Regions from separate parts of the Homo sapiens genome. Here regions 1 and 2 are each linked to region 3. The links come from fine-mapping of genetic effects on gene expression. A gene starts in region 3. Each other region holds a variant in brackets. All regions are shown on one strand. Distances are from middle to middle.

Region 1 (4,183 bases), 110 kb before region 3:
AGTAAACAGCACTATAAATGTAATGTCAGGTGATAATACAGAGTGTTAGGGGAAAAAATACGGTATTTTTGTTCTTTTAATCTTTGCTGTTTGATAGCCAGATTCCATAAGATGTCATTATTTTTTTATTATGATTCATTTATTCAATAAATATTTATTGAGCATATGCTGTAACCCTGGGGACCAGAGGTGAACAAGATGATAATGGAACTACATTCTGCTGTGGAAAGATAGGCAGTAAACAAACTAACAAATAAGAGAACAGTATAATAGTAACTTTGGTGGGATTGGGAACATTTGATTGTGTTTTCAGAGAAGGCCTCTCTGAAGAGTTAATATTTGACCTGAGACTAAAATGACAACAAATTAGTTATAAGATCTAGATGAATAAGGCATTGTCAAAGGGAACAACAAAACCAAAAGTTTGGAGGCAGGAATGAGCATGACTTACTGGAAGAATGGAAAGCCAGTGAGGCTGCAGTGTAACGACTGATGGACAGAGTCAGAAGAGATGAGAAGTAGGTAGGTTAGGTTATAGGGCTTTGGAGACCACAATAAGGGATTTGGATTTTATTGTAATACAGTAAGAAATCTTTGAAGGTTTAAGCAGGACAGTGACATGATTTGATTTACCTTTTTTTTTTTTTTTTGGAGATGGAGTCTTGCTCTGTTGCATTGCTCAGGCTGTAGTGCAGTGGTGCGATCTCGGCTCACTGCAACCTCCACTTCCCAGGTTCAAGCAATTTCCCCCAACTCAGCCTCCCGAGTAGCCGGGACTACAAGCGCACCACCACGCTTGACTAATTTTTTGTATTTTAGTAGAGACGGGGTTTCACCATGTTGGCCAGGATGGTCTAGATCTCCTGACCTCATGATCCTCCCGCCTCGGCCTCCCAAAGTGCTGGGATTACAGGCGTGAGCCACTGCACCTAGCCTTGATTTACATTTTTTAGAGATGACTTTAGCTACTGTGAAAAGAAAAGATGGTAAGGTAGGGAGACCATATAATTTATCATCCAATTGGGAAACTTTTGCAAATGAAAAGGGATGCTAACTGGACCAGGATGTCAAGCAACAGGTGAAAACTGGAACTGTCCCAAACAAAGCAGAAGTGTAGTCACCCTACTGTAAGAGGGGAAGAGTGAAATTAGGGAGATCAGTTAGAAGGTTGGCTGTAGTAGTCCAGGTCAGAAATAACTGTAGCTTGGACTGGAGTGGTGGTACAGACTGGGAGAGTGGAGGGATGTAGATATTTAGTAAATAAAATCAACAGGTCCTGATAACTTGGATGTGGATAACAAGGGAAAGGAAGGAATGAAGAAGGATGCCCTGAGTTCTGGCTTGAGCAACTGAATGCATGTTGGTGTCATGCATTGAAATGAAGCAGACTTGGGAGGAACAGGGTTAGAGGAAAGATTCAAGAGTTCTGTTTTGAAGGTATAAAACTTAACGATGCCTGTGGAATAGCCAACTGGAGATGCCAAGTATAACATTTGTACTGAGTTTAGAGCTCTGAAGAAAAGTCCTGACTAGAGATACAAATTTAGTCTTGTTAGCGCATAGGTTATAGTGAAGTCATTGACCTGGATAAAATCATCTAGGTTGAGGTGACAAGAGGAAGAACATCCAGAACCTAGCCCAAGGGAACACCATAGTGCATAGCCCAAGGGAGGAAGAGCAGCTAGTGAGGTTGGAGATAAAGGAGTGTGCTCACATATAGTACAGCCAGACATCTTGCTTATGTTTATTGGAAACACATAGGGTATGTGTGCAAATTCCCTATGCTTGTCCTTTGCCCATTTTTCTGTTGCG[G/A]TATTATAATGTTTCTTTTTTTTTTTCCTTTTTTTTTTTTTTTTTTTTTTTTTTGAGAGGGAGTTTCACTCTTGTTGCCCAGGCTGGAGTGCAATGGTGCAATCTCAGCTCACTGCAACCTCCACCTACCTGGCTCAAGCGATTCTCCTGCCTCAGACTCCCAAGCAGCTGGGATTACAGGCATGTGCCACCATGCCCAGCTAATTTTGTATTTTTAGTAGACACGGGGTTTTACCATGTTGGTCAGGCTGGTCTCAAACTCCTGACCTCAAGTGATCCACCCGCCTCGGCCTCCCAAAGTGCTGGGATTACAGGCATGAGCCACCGCACCCGGCCAACATTTCTTATTCATTTGTTAAATCTACTTATATATTAAAGATTGGTATAGGTGGAACTGTATCTCCTAAAAAGCTGTGCTGAAGTTCTAACCCCCCACTACCTCAGATTGTGACCTTATTTAGAAATAGGGTCATTGGCAGATATAATCAGTGAAGATGAGGTTGTGCCGAGTAGAGTGAACCCTTAATACAACATGACTACTGTCCTTATGAGAAGAACATGTGAAGACACAGGGGAAGAACGCCATGTGACAGTGGAAGCAGAAACCGAAGTTATGCAGCTGCAAGCCAAGGAACACCGAGGACTGCTGGCGACATCAGGAGCTAAGAAAAAGGCATGAAACAGATTCTTCCCTGGAGCCTTCAAGAGAACGTGGCTCTGTAGACACCTTGATTTCAAACCTTTAGCCTCCAGGACTGTGAGGGGATAAATTTCTGTTGCTTAAATCCACCTAGTTTCTGGTAATTTTTACTAGGAAACTAATATAGCCTCCTGTCATACATGTTACAATTTTCTTTCAACTTTTGATTTTGTTTTTTTAATTACAGAAGTTTTACATTTTTATATAGTCAATTCTACCACTCCTTTTCTTTATGATTTCTTAGTTGTCATGCTTATGTCAACCTAAATAACAGACAGCGACTATCTAAAAAGAAAGTGATATTTATTCAGGAATGGCATTGCAACCGGAGTGTGTGAGCCATAATAAACTATGTGTGTATTCAGGGAGGTAAAGGAAGGCAGAAGCTTTTAAAGGAAAAATGAGGAGGATTACATAATTGTTTTGAGATAATTATCGTTATCTGCAAGGATTAATAACAAGGGTGGCTCCAGTCCAAGGTCGAGCAGGCAGTTGCTGGGCAGATGTCCTCATGGAAGTATTTTTTTCTGTAAGGTTGTGGTTTTTGCAGAGCCTTTTGTGGTACTTATCAGGCATTTGTGCATAGTAATCCTCCCTTCATGGCCTTCCCTAGCTCTATTTGTCAAGGTTTTTTTTTTTTTTTTTTTTTGAGACGAGTCTCGCTCTGTCACCCAGGCTGGAGTGCAGTGGCACGATCTCGGGTCACTGCAACCTCCACCTCCCGGATTCAAGCAATTCTCCTGCCTCAGCCTCCTGAGTAGCTGGGATTACAGGCATGTGCCACTACACCTGGCTAATTTTTTTGTATTTTTCGTAGAGACGGGGTTTCACCATATTGGCCAGGCTGGTCTCGAACTGCTGACCTTGTGATCCACCCACCTCGACCTCCCAAAGTGTTGGGATTACAGGCATGAGCCACCACGCCTGGCCAGGTGACTCCATTTTGATACTGACAACTCACATTTCCCTCATTTGATCAAGATGTTTTCCCAAAAACATTGCCAATCAGCTTGTATAATAGTTCAGGTGTGTGTGTGTGTGTGTGTGTGTGTGTGTGTGTGTGTGTGTGTGTTTGTCTTGAGATGGAGTCTCACTCTGCCACCCAGGCAAAGTGATCTTGGCTCACTGCAACCTCCACTTCCCGGGTTCAAGTGATTCTCCCACTCAGCCTCCCGAGTAGCTGGGATTACAGGCAAGTGCCACCATGCCTAGCTAATTTTTTATTTATTATTATTATTATTCTTTAAGTTCTGGGATACATGTGCAGAACGTGCAGGTTTGTTACATAGGTATACACATGCCATGGTGGCTGCTGCACTCATCAACCCATCATCTACCTTAGGTATTTCTCCTAATGCAATCCCTCCCCTAGCCCCCCACCCCCCAACAGGCCCCGGTGTGTGATGTTCCCGTCCCTGTGTCCATGTGTTCTCATTGTTCAACTTCCACTTATAAGTGAGAACATGCAGTGTTTGGTTTTCTGTTCCTGTGTTAGTTTGCTGAGAATGATGGTTTCCAGCTTCATCCATGTCCCTTCAAAGGACATGAACTTATCCTTTTTTATGGCTGCATAGTATTCCATGGTGTATATGTGCCACATTTTCTTTATGCGTCTATCATTGATGGGCATTTGGGTTGGTTCCAAGTCTTTGCTATTGTGAATAGTGCTGC
Region 2 (4,183 bases), 32 kb after region 3:
AAAGGAAGTTCCCAGTTGCAAGCAGGAGCTGCCTGAGCCTGTGTCCTCAGGTGGGAAGCCACAGAAGGGCAAGAGGCAGGGCAGTCAGGCCAAGAAGAGCGAGGCAAGCCCAGCCCCCCGGCCCCCAGCCAGCCTAGAGGTTCCCAGTGCCAAGGGCCAGGTCGCTGGCCCCAAGCAGCCAGGCAGGGTCCTAGAGCTTCCCAAAGTAGGCAGCTGTGCTGAGGCTGGAGAGGGGAGCCGGGGGAGCCGGCCAGGACCAGGTTGGGCTGGCAGTCCCAAAACTGAGAAGGAGAAGGGCAGCTCCTGGCGAAACTGGCCAGGCGAGGCCAAGGCACGGCCTCAGGAGCAGGAGTCTGTGCAGCCCTCAGGCCCAGCAAGGCCACAGAGCTTGCCCCAGGGCAAGGGCCGCAGCCGCCGGAGCCGCAACAAGCAGGAGAAGCCAGCCTCCTCCTTGGGTGAGTGCACCAGGAACTGAGCGGCTGACCCCCTACCCCAGCCAGTCCACGGGGTGGAGGGGCAGCCTTTGTGTGTAGACAGCGCTGCCCCCAGAGCATAACCCCAAAGGCCTGGCCATGGGCACTGAGCCCTCCTGGCTGTGTCTTCCTAGACGATGTGTTCCTGCCCAAGGACATGGACGGGGTGGAGATGGATGAGACTGACCGAGAGGTGGAGTACTTTAAGAGGTAGGTGTGGGCTGCCTGCTCTCCCACTTGTGGAGGACTCCAGGTCCTGCCCACACTCAAGCCCTGTGTTGTGCCTCAAGCCTCAGAAAGGCCTGCTCCCTTGGCCCTGACCCCTTGGGGAGGCTCACCGCCCCCCCAGGCCCTCTCCCACCAGCCTGCCTGCTGAAAACCCACGGAGCCACTGGGCAGGATGGCACATCTGGGAAGGTGCAAGAGATAGGAGGAGGCATGTCAGGCCCCAAGAACCAGGGCTTTTTCCAGCTTTATTTGCTTTGTGTCTTCACTTGCACATTCTCTGCTTTGCCTGGGCTGAGGTCAATGAAGCAGTCTAGACCAGGAGTCTGGCCATGAACATGCAGCCTACTGATAAATGGCATAGAGTTGGGGAGGATAGAAGGGGTGGGGGCTGGCCAGGAGGCCTTCCCAGGAGAGGTGGTAACCAAGTTGAAACCTGAAGAGTAAGAATGAGTTGGCCAGATAAGATGAAAAGGTATTCATGCCAAGGGGGCCAGTGAGTACAAAAGATTAGGGTGAAAGAAACACGGCATACAGTCACCCTCCATATCTGCAATCAAAAATATTCAGGAAAAAAAACAAAACACAAAAAATAGCAATACATTACTAAATAATGCAAATTTTTTAAAAATTAGTATTTTTGGCCAAGCGCGGTGGCTCATGCTTCTCATCCTAGCACTTTGGGAGGCCGAGGCGGGTGGATCACCTGAGATCAGGAGTTCAAGACCAGCCTGGCCAAGTTGGTGAAACCCCGTCTCTACTAAAAATAGAAAAATAAGGCAGGTATGGTGGCACGTGCTTATAATCCCAGCTACTCGGGAGGCTGAGGCAGGAGAATCGCTGGAACCTGGGAGGTGGAGGCTGCAGTGAGCTGAGATTGGGCCACAGAACGAGACTCCGTCTCAAAAAAATACGTATTTTTACAGGTGGTGGCTCATGCCTGTAATTTCAGCACTTTGGGAGGCCAAGGCAGGCGGATCACTTGAGGTACTTGAGGTCAGGAGTTCTAGACCAGCCTGGCCAACATGGTGAAACCCTGTCTCTAATAAAAATACAAAAATTAGCCGGGCGTGGTGGCGGGCGCCTGTAATCCCAGCTACTTGGGAAGCTGAGGCAAGAGAATCGCTTGAACCTGGGAGTCAGAGGTTGCAGTAAGCCAAGATTGTGCCATTGCACTTCAGCCTGGGTAACAGAGTAAGACTCTGTCTCAAATAAATAAAAATAAAAATATAATAACTACATAGCATTTACATTGTATTAGGTATTTTAAGTAATCTAGAGATGATTTAAAGTATGTGGGAAGGCCAAGCACAGTGTCTCCCACCTGTAATCCCAGCACTTTGGAAGGCCAAGGTGGGAGGATCACTTGAGCTCAGGAGTTCAAGACCAGCCTGGGCAATATAGTGAGACCCTATCTCTTATTTAAAAAAAAAATAGTAATTTTAAAAAAAAGTATATGGGAAGAGCAGTGCAGGTTTTATGCAAATACTACACCATTTTTATATAAGGGATTTGTGCATCTGCAGAGTTTGGTATCTGGGTAACTAATCCCCAGCAGATTCAGAGGGACGACTGTACTTAAGGGAATGACGGAAGCCAGCCTAGCAGAGCTAGAGAATC[A/G]AACACCAGATGAGGAGGAACTGGAATCCCAAGGCAGTTTCACTGTCTTCATACATAGTTCCCTGGGCCCAATCCAGAAGCCCCCAAGCCAGCAAAGCTCCTATGCCTGCTAAACCCTAGCACCTGAGAGCCAAAGAGGTTTTGTAGAGAACCTGGTCTCTTAGTGATGGGGACATGGTACCTTAGGAGTCCAGTGAGCAAAAGAATGAACCTCTGATTGTGCTTCTCATGTGTCCCCCAAACCCAACAGGTTCTGTTTGGATTCTGCAAAGCAGACTCGTCAGAAAGTTGCTGTGAACTGGACCAACTTCAGCCTCAAGAAAACCACTCCTAGCACAGCTCAGTGAGGTACAGAGACCCCAAGAGTTACATCCACTGCCTCTCCCTGTGCTTGGCCACCCTCTCTGTACGCTCACCAGACCATTCTGTGCTCTGGGGCACAGGGAGTTGGACTTGGGGCATGGGATCCCTGGCTTCTGTCTGCATCTTCACAGCAATGGCAGGCTACAGCCTCCAAAGGTCAAGGCCCCATCTCCTCCCGCAGCCACTCACCTGTAGGCCTCTGTTCTATTACTCCTCCCTGGGCCCTGCTGCCCATGCTCCTGAAGGTCCCCTTCCTGGACTGGCATCTCCTAAGGCATAACCATCAGGGTCTTAACCAGCTGATTTCAAAAGTGCCCAGGTAGCCATCAGACCCATGGGGCTGCCCTCACCCCTGATGTTATCAGTCCTTGTGTCAAGTCCCACTTCCTGCCCTGGGCTCCTCAGTGTAGGCTACCAAGGTACTTCCCAGCTGAAGCAGTATAAGAAGGGGCCAGCCCTGAGTGAACATCGTGGGTCATTTAGGCATGGAGGAGTTGATGGGGGCTACCCAAAGCAGGGCAAGCTCCATGAGGATATTGGTAGCCACAGTGCCTCCTAGAGGAAGAGACCTGGGTGCCAGATGGCATTGGCATCCCCTCCCAGCCACCCACACAGGTCCTTTTGTCTGAAACAATGATGTACCAGATGATGATCTGGACTGGGAACAGACAACTGGAGAAGGCACTGGGCCTGGAACCCTATTGATGAAGAGAAGGGCAGCTAGCAGGCAGACCTTGGGCTGGGGGCTGAGTGGCTCTGCAGTTTCATATCTCAACCCTCAGCTGTGTCCCTGGGGTCAGGCCTTTTCCGGCTGGCAACCACACAGCTGTCCTGGAGACTGGAAGGCTGGGGCAGGCAGACTGAGCTCACAAACAACTCACTTCCCCCATGATGGCCCCACCTGTCTTTCTCCTCTTTCCAGTGCCAGGCCAGCTCCTCTCTGGGCCTAAGCAGCAAACTTCCTGGACCCTCAGCTCCCCAGGGGCAGCTCAGAGAGCCTGCAGCCAGGACAGCCTTCAGAGCTGGGGCTCCCTGTGACCCTTGTGCTGCCCCAGAGTCCAGACTGTCTTCTTTACACTCACTTTAGTCCTCCTCTCCTCTGAAGGGGTTGGGCTCAGTCAGCCCCCTTTGCCAAACTGAGATGCCCACAAGCCCCAGAAGTATCTTCCAGATCCAAGGTGGCCTCCTGCCTCTTCTCCACCTCCATGGGAACCAGGAGTAGCAGGAACCCCAGGCACTTCATCTGTTATCCCTACTGAGAGAAAAGAGATCGCATTTCCTCCCACAAGCCCAGTTCTGTCATTCAAGAAATCAAATGCAACTGTCTCCTTCCACTGCCTCCTCTTGACCCTTTTTCACCTGGTCTGGCCTCTTTTCCAAGATAGAAGATGCCCCTCTCCCCACCCCCTAGTAAGCGCTCTCCTTTGAGCCTCTTCACCCTCCCCCGGGCTGTGCACCTACAGTCAGAGGCAGGAGCACAGCTGCACAGCTGGCCTCCCAGC
Region 3 (4,183 bases):
AGGCAGAGGTTGCAGTGAGCAGAGATCCCGCTACTGCACTCCAGCCTGGGTGGCAGAGATTCCATCTCAAAATAATAATAATAATAATAATAATAATAATAATAATAATAATAATAATAATGTATCGAAATACATCTATGTTACCTACCAAGTCTAAAGAAGCCCCAGCCCAAGTATTGCACCTCTTCCCTAGTAGGGAGTGTGATCTACAGCAGCTTTCCCTTCACTTTGTACGAAATATCTCAACATATCCCAGACTCCTAGATGGCTTACTGCGAGGCCCCTATATATTTGTGAGATTTATTATCCATCCTCTGGCACACACATCATGCCTTACCAAATCATCCAGGATATCTGCTATTCCCTTTTCTTAAGGTCCATCAAGATGATGTCATCAGTGCCTCAGCAGATTAGCCTGATATCCATTAGAATGGAGATTTAGTAAAAAAAATCCCTGTAAACTGGCAGGGTGCAGTGGCTCCGCCTGTAATCCTAGCACTTTGGGAGGCCGAGGCAGGTGCATCACCTGAGGTCAAGAATTCGAGACCAGCCTGGGCAATACGGGGAAACCCCGTCTCTACTAAAAATACAAAAAAATTAGGGGGCGTGGTAGCATGTGCCTCTAATCCCAGCTAATCTGGAGGCTGAGGCACGAGAATCCCTTGAACCCAGGAGGCGGAGGTTGCAGTGAGCTGAAATTGCGCCACTGCACTCCAGCCTGGGAGATAGAGTGAGACTCTGTCATTAAAAAAAAAAAAAAAAAAAATCCCTGTAAACTAAGTGGCTGGGTCCAGAGTGTGACATACCCTGAAGCAAGACAGTGAGGGTTTACCGCTGCCCCTGCCAGATCAATGCAAGGGATTCCTGGTGTTTGGTACAGAAGAATAACCATTGACCAGACCTCTTGTTGCCTATTAGAGACCAACAACTGTGCTGATCTGTCCCAAGAAGGACCGCATCTGGAAGAATGCCTGCAGTTGGGGTTCTTACCAGAATAAGTAAGTTTATCATAATGCTCTGTTGTTCTTCAAGGCCGTCTCTCTTCTGTTCTGGGCAAACTGAAGAGGTAATGGTGATGTGATGGGACTCACCCTGCGTCTTTCAAATCTTTGATAGTGGCATTAATCCCTGGGTGAGATAAGGTACTATTTTTGATTTATTTTCTTGGTAGTTAAGGAGAGCTCCAGGGCCTTCCATGTAGCTCTTCCTTTCAAAATAGCCCTTGCCCCATGGGTTAGGAAGCCAGTGTCAGGATTCCGCCCCTGTTGATACCAATAGCAACTCTGCATATAACCACAATTTCAGAGTACATAGCCCAGGCATGAGACAGACTTCACTCAAAACTTTTTTTTTTTAATCTGTGCCATGTACATGTATTATACAGTATATTCACAAAAAGAGGGGGGAAATTCCATTTTTAACAATTAAATACATAATTATTAAGTTTTAAAAATTCTCCTTTGTGTACCACTCCAAAATCCTCTCCTGCACATACTATTTTTTTGGAAACACCTAGTCGTCTCATCGTTATCACACCGGTTGTAACTATGTACCTACGTGTCTACCTTCCCCATCAGACTCGGGAACAAGGAGTCGGGTTTGAGTCCCACTGTCCCAAGCACAGAACGCTGGACTCCCAGTAGACCATATGTTGCAAATAAAGACCTTCGTCCCTTTCAACTCAGGCCGTCCACGAGCCCAGGAGTTCCAACAAAATGATGTACAGCAACCTTTTCCAGGCCTTTATGTTGCCTCAATATTTCTCACCTGCAAAATGGGAATGATCCGTACCTGCCTCGCTGTGCTGTCGGAAGGAGTCAGACGATGGGTGTGAAAGTATTGTAACACTATAGAAATTAATTCACTCATCCATTTAACAGGCAATTATTAAGTGCTAGGGTGGTGCAGCGCGATTACCACCGCATTACACGCGTTCCTCCAGCAGGTTGCATCCTTCCCGTCCCGCGTAGGGGGGGAAGGGCGTCTCCCCACCAAGTTTTTCTCCCAGCGAACTCCGGGTGGTGACCTTATTCAAAATGGCGCAGGCGGCCTCGGGGGCTAGTGCGGCGGCGCGGACTCCGCGTGCCCTCTGACCTGTTGGCAGCAGGCGGAGGGGGGGAACCGGGCGCCGCCATATTGGCTGTTGTCCTGTGAGGGGAGCGGTAGCGGCGGCGGCGGCGGCGGCGGCGGCGGCGGCGGCGGCGGCGTGTGGAGCGAGGGAGCGGCGCGAGCGGCGGCATGACGCGGAGGCGGAGCAGGCCGAGCGGCGGTGCGGGCAGGCGCGAGCGGGCTCGGGCCGCGGGGCCGCAGAAGCCCCAGGCGCCCGAGCCCCCGCCGCCGCCAAGCCTGGAGGCGGGAGCGGGTGCAGGCCCTCCGGAGGCGCCGGCGGAGCCCGACCACGACGGCCCCAGGGAGGATGACGAACCCAACCTGGTGCCCGGCCCGCAGGTAGGAGCGAGCGGGGAGACTTCGGCGGCTCGGGCGCTTTCACCTTCCCCGAGCGGGAGCGGGAGTGGGGCGGGGTTGGGGATGGGCCATCCTGCCGCGGCTGGGGTAGCAGCCTTCCCCCGGGTCCGGCGCCGAAGCTTTCTCCCCCGGGGCGGGAATGGAGGCTGGACCCCTCTCCCCAAAGCCGAGGCTCGGTCCGCGCTCCTGCGACTAGGCTGAAGCTGCTCCCCTCTCCCCGCCGCCTCCGGGCGTTCCGGCCGTACACCCACACTGGGACTGGGACTGGGACTGGGCTGTGATCCCGAGGCCGCAGCTCCGCTCTCGGCCCGCCACCTCCCCCGGGCCCACCTGCTCCCTCAGCCACAGGCCATCTCGGGGCTCTGGGACTGGACGACTGCAGCCTCTTCCCTCTGCCCCCGGGAACGGCTCCACTCCGTCCCCTGCAGCGCCTGCAGCCGCGGCCCCCTCAGCAGCTGTGTCTCCTGGCGCCTCCTCGCCATACCCAGCAGAGCAGTTGGAGCAGACAGCCAGGCTGCCCGGAGGAGTTTTTGGTGGGGTTTCTGCACTGAGGTGGAAACCCAGCAGAACCTGCCCTTCTTCCCTCCCCTGCTCCGCAAGGCAGCCCACCCCGACCTTGAGATCCCAGGTTTGGAGAATCCTGCTGAGAGCGAACAGTAGGAGGATTCCCCAAAGCTTCCAGCTTGCCACCTGGAAGAAGGTCACTTTCTTTTGAGCAAAGGAGATAACGGGAGGTACCCTGCCAAAGTTCACTGAGAGGCGGGGGTGACATGGGCCACGGTTGCTCTGGGAGGGTTGTGGCACTCGGGGCTGGGTGGCTCTCCCTAAGCTTGCTCTGACAAAAGAGTTTTGAGTTGGTCTTTTGGCTGAGCCTGCCCAGGAAGGCAGGCTCCTGCAGGAGTCTTGGAGGGTCGGATGCGGCGCCGGATGAGGATGAGGCGTGGCGGAAGATGCGTTTGGCTCTGCAGACACTGCATCGGGCAGCAGGGGACTCTGGGAGGCTGGTGCAGCCAGAAGGCATGGCTCTTGACAGCCTTCTAGTAGAATCTCTGGAATTGTGCATGTGAGTGGGGTTGCCGTTTGGGGTACCTTCCCACAAAGCCTCCCCTGACCTCCCCAGTTGCGTCAGGTGCCCTCTCTGTGCCCACAGCCCTCTGTGCCTCCCTCTGGTAGCACTCCCCTTTCTGTGATGAAACATTGTGTTGATATGTCTGTTGCCTGCCCTGGACTGTGAACTCCACAGGGACACAGGCTATGCCATCTTTCTCTGATCTTCCACGCCTCGCCCAGGGCCTTGCTAACACAGAATAAAAATAACTAGGTGAATGAGAGAGAAAATGAATCGGTCCAGAACCCGTGCTTATTGTAACCCAGTTTTCATGCTGATTTCCTTTGTGTCTCAGATCACAATAAGGTTTTTAATTAATGAAAATGTCAGCACTTACTGAGTGTCAGAAGCTCCACCTTCATCCGCATCCCCATCTCCTATCCTAGGCTGACACTTCCGTAGGAGACTCCCCAGGTTGGACCCCCAACCCCTACTGGGTCTAGCTTCCAACCCCAAAGCTGCTTCCCCCACCAGCCTACTCTGGGACCCCCGTGGGAGTGCTGTTATCCAAAAAGGGAGAGTGGGAGAAGGGAGAGCTGGAAAGCTGTTGTCTTCTCTTCTTCCCATTCAGCAGACCATAGAATACTTCAGGGTCTCTGCCACATAGAG

Evidence for each region. PIP is the estimated chance that this variant, and not a neighbour inherited with it, causes the effect. A credible set is the group of variants that fine-mapping cannot tell apart.
Region 1: its variant is the best candidate, but not a certain one, in a credible set for the expression of FAM193B in whole blood (TOPMed, PIP 0.77).
Region 2: its variant is the best candidate, but not a certain one, in a credible set for the expression of FAM193B in whole blood (TOPMed, PIP 0.62).

The regions. Positions count from the first base shown.
Region 1 is chr5:177,663,589-177,667,771 of GRCh38, reverse strand. It overlaps the pseudogene SIMC1P1. Among named protein-coding and RNA genes, the nearest start is that of B4GALT7, 66 kb to the right of the region's middle. The variant G/A (reference allele first, on the strand shown) is at 1,813.
Region 2 is chr5:177,520,457-177,524,639 of GRCh38, reverse strand. It overlaps FAM193B (family with sequence similarity 193 member B), which reads left to right. Exons shown (of 9, transcript NM_001190946.3): 6 at 1-455; 7 at 608-683; 8 at 2,569-2,666. The coding sequence ends at 2,665. Among named protein-coding and RNA genes, the nearest start is that of DDX41, 5.6 kb to the right of the region's middle. The variant A/G (reference allele first, on the strand shown) is at 2,319.
Region 3 is chr5:177,552,514-177,556,696 of GRCh38, reverse strand. FAM193B (family with sequence similarity 193 member B) reads left to right here and starts at 2,134. Exons shown (of 9, transcript NM_001190946.3): 1 at 2,134-2,448. The coding sequence starts at 2,239. FAM193B-DT (FAM193B divergent transcript) reads right to left here and starts at 2,069. Exons shown (of 3, transcript XR_941274.3): 1 at 1,768-2,069. RefSeq lists enhancers at 1,876-2,025, 2,046-2,205, 1,932-2,435 and silencers at 2,316-2,525, 2,856-2,965.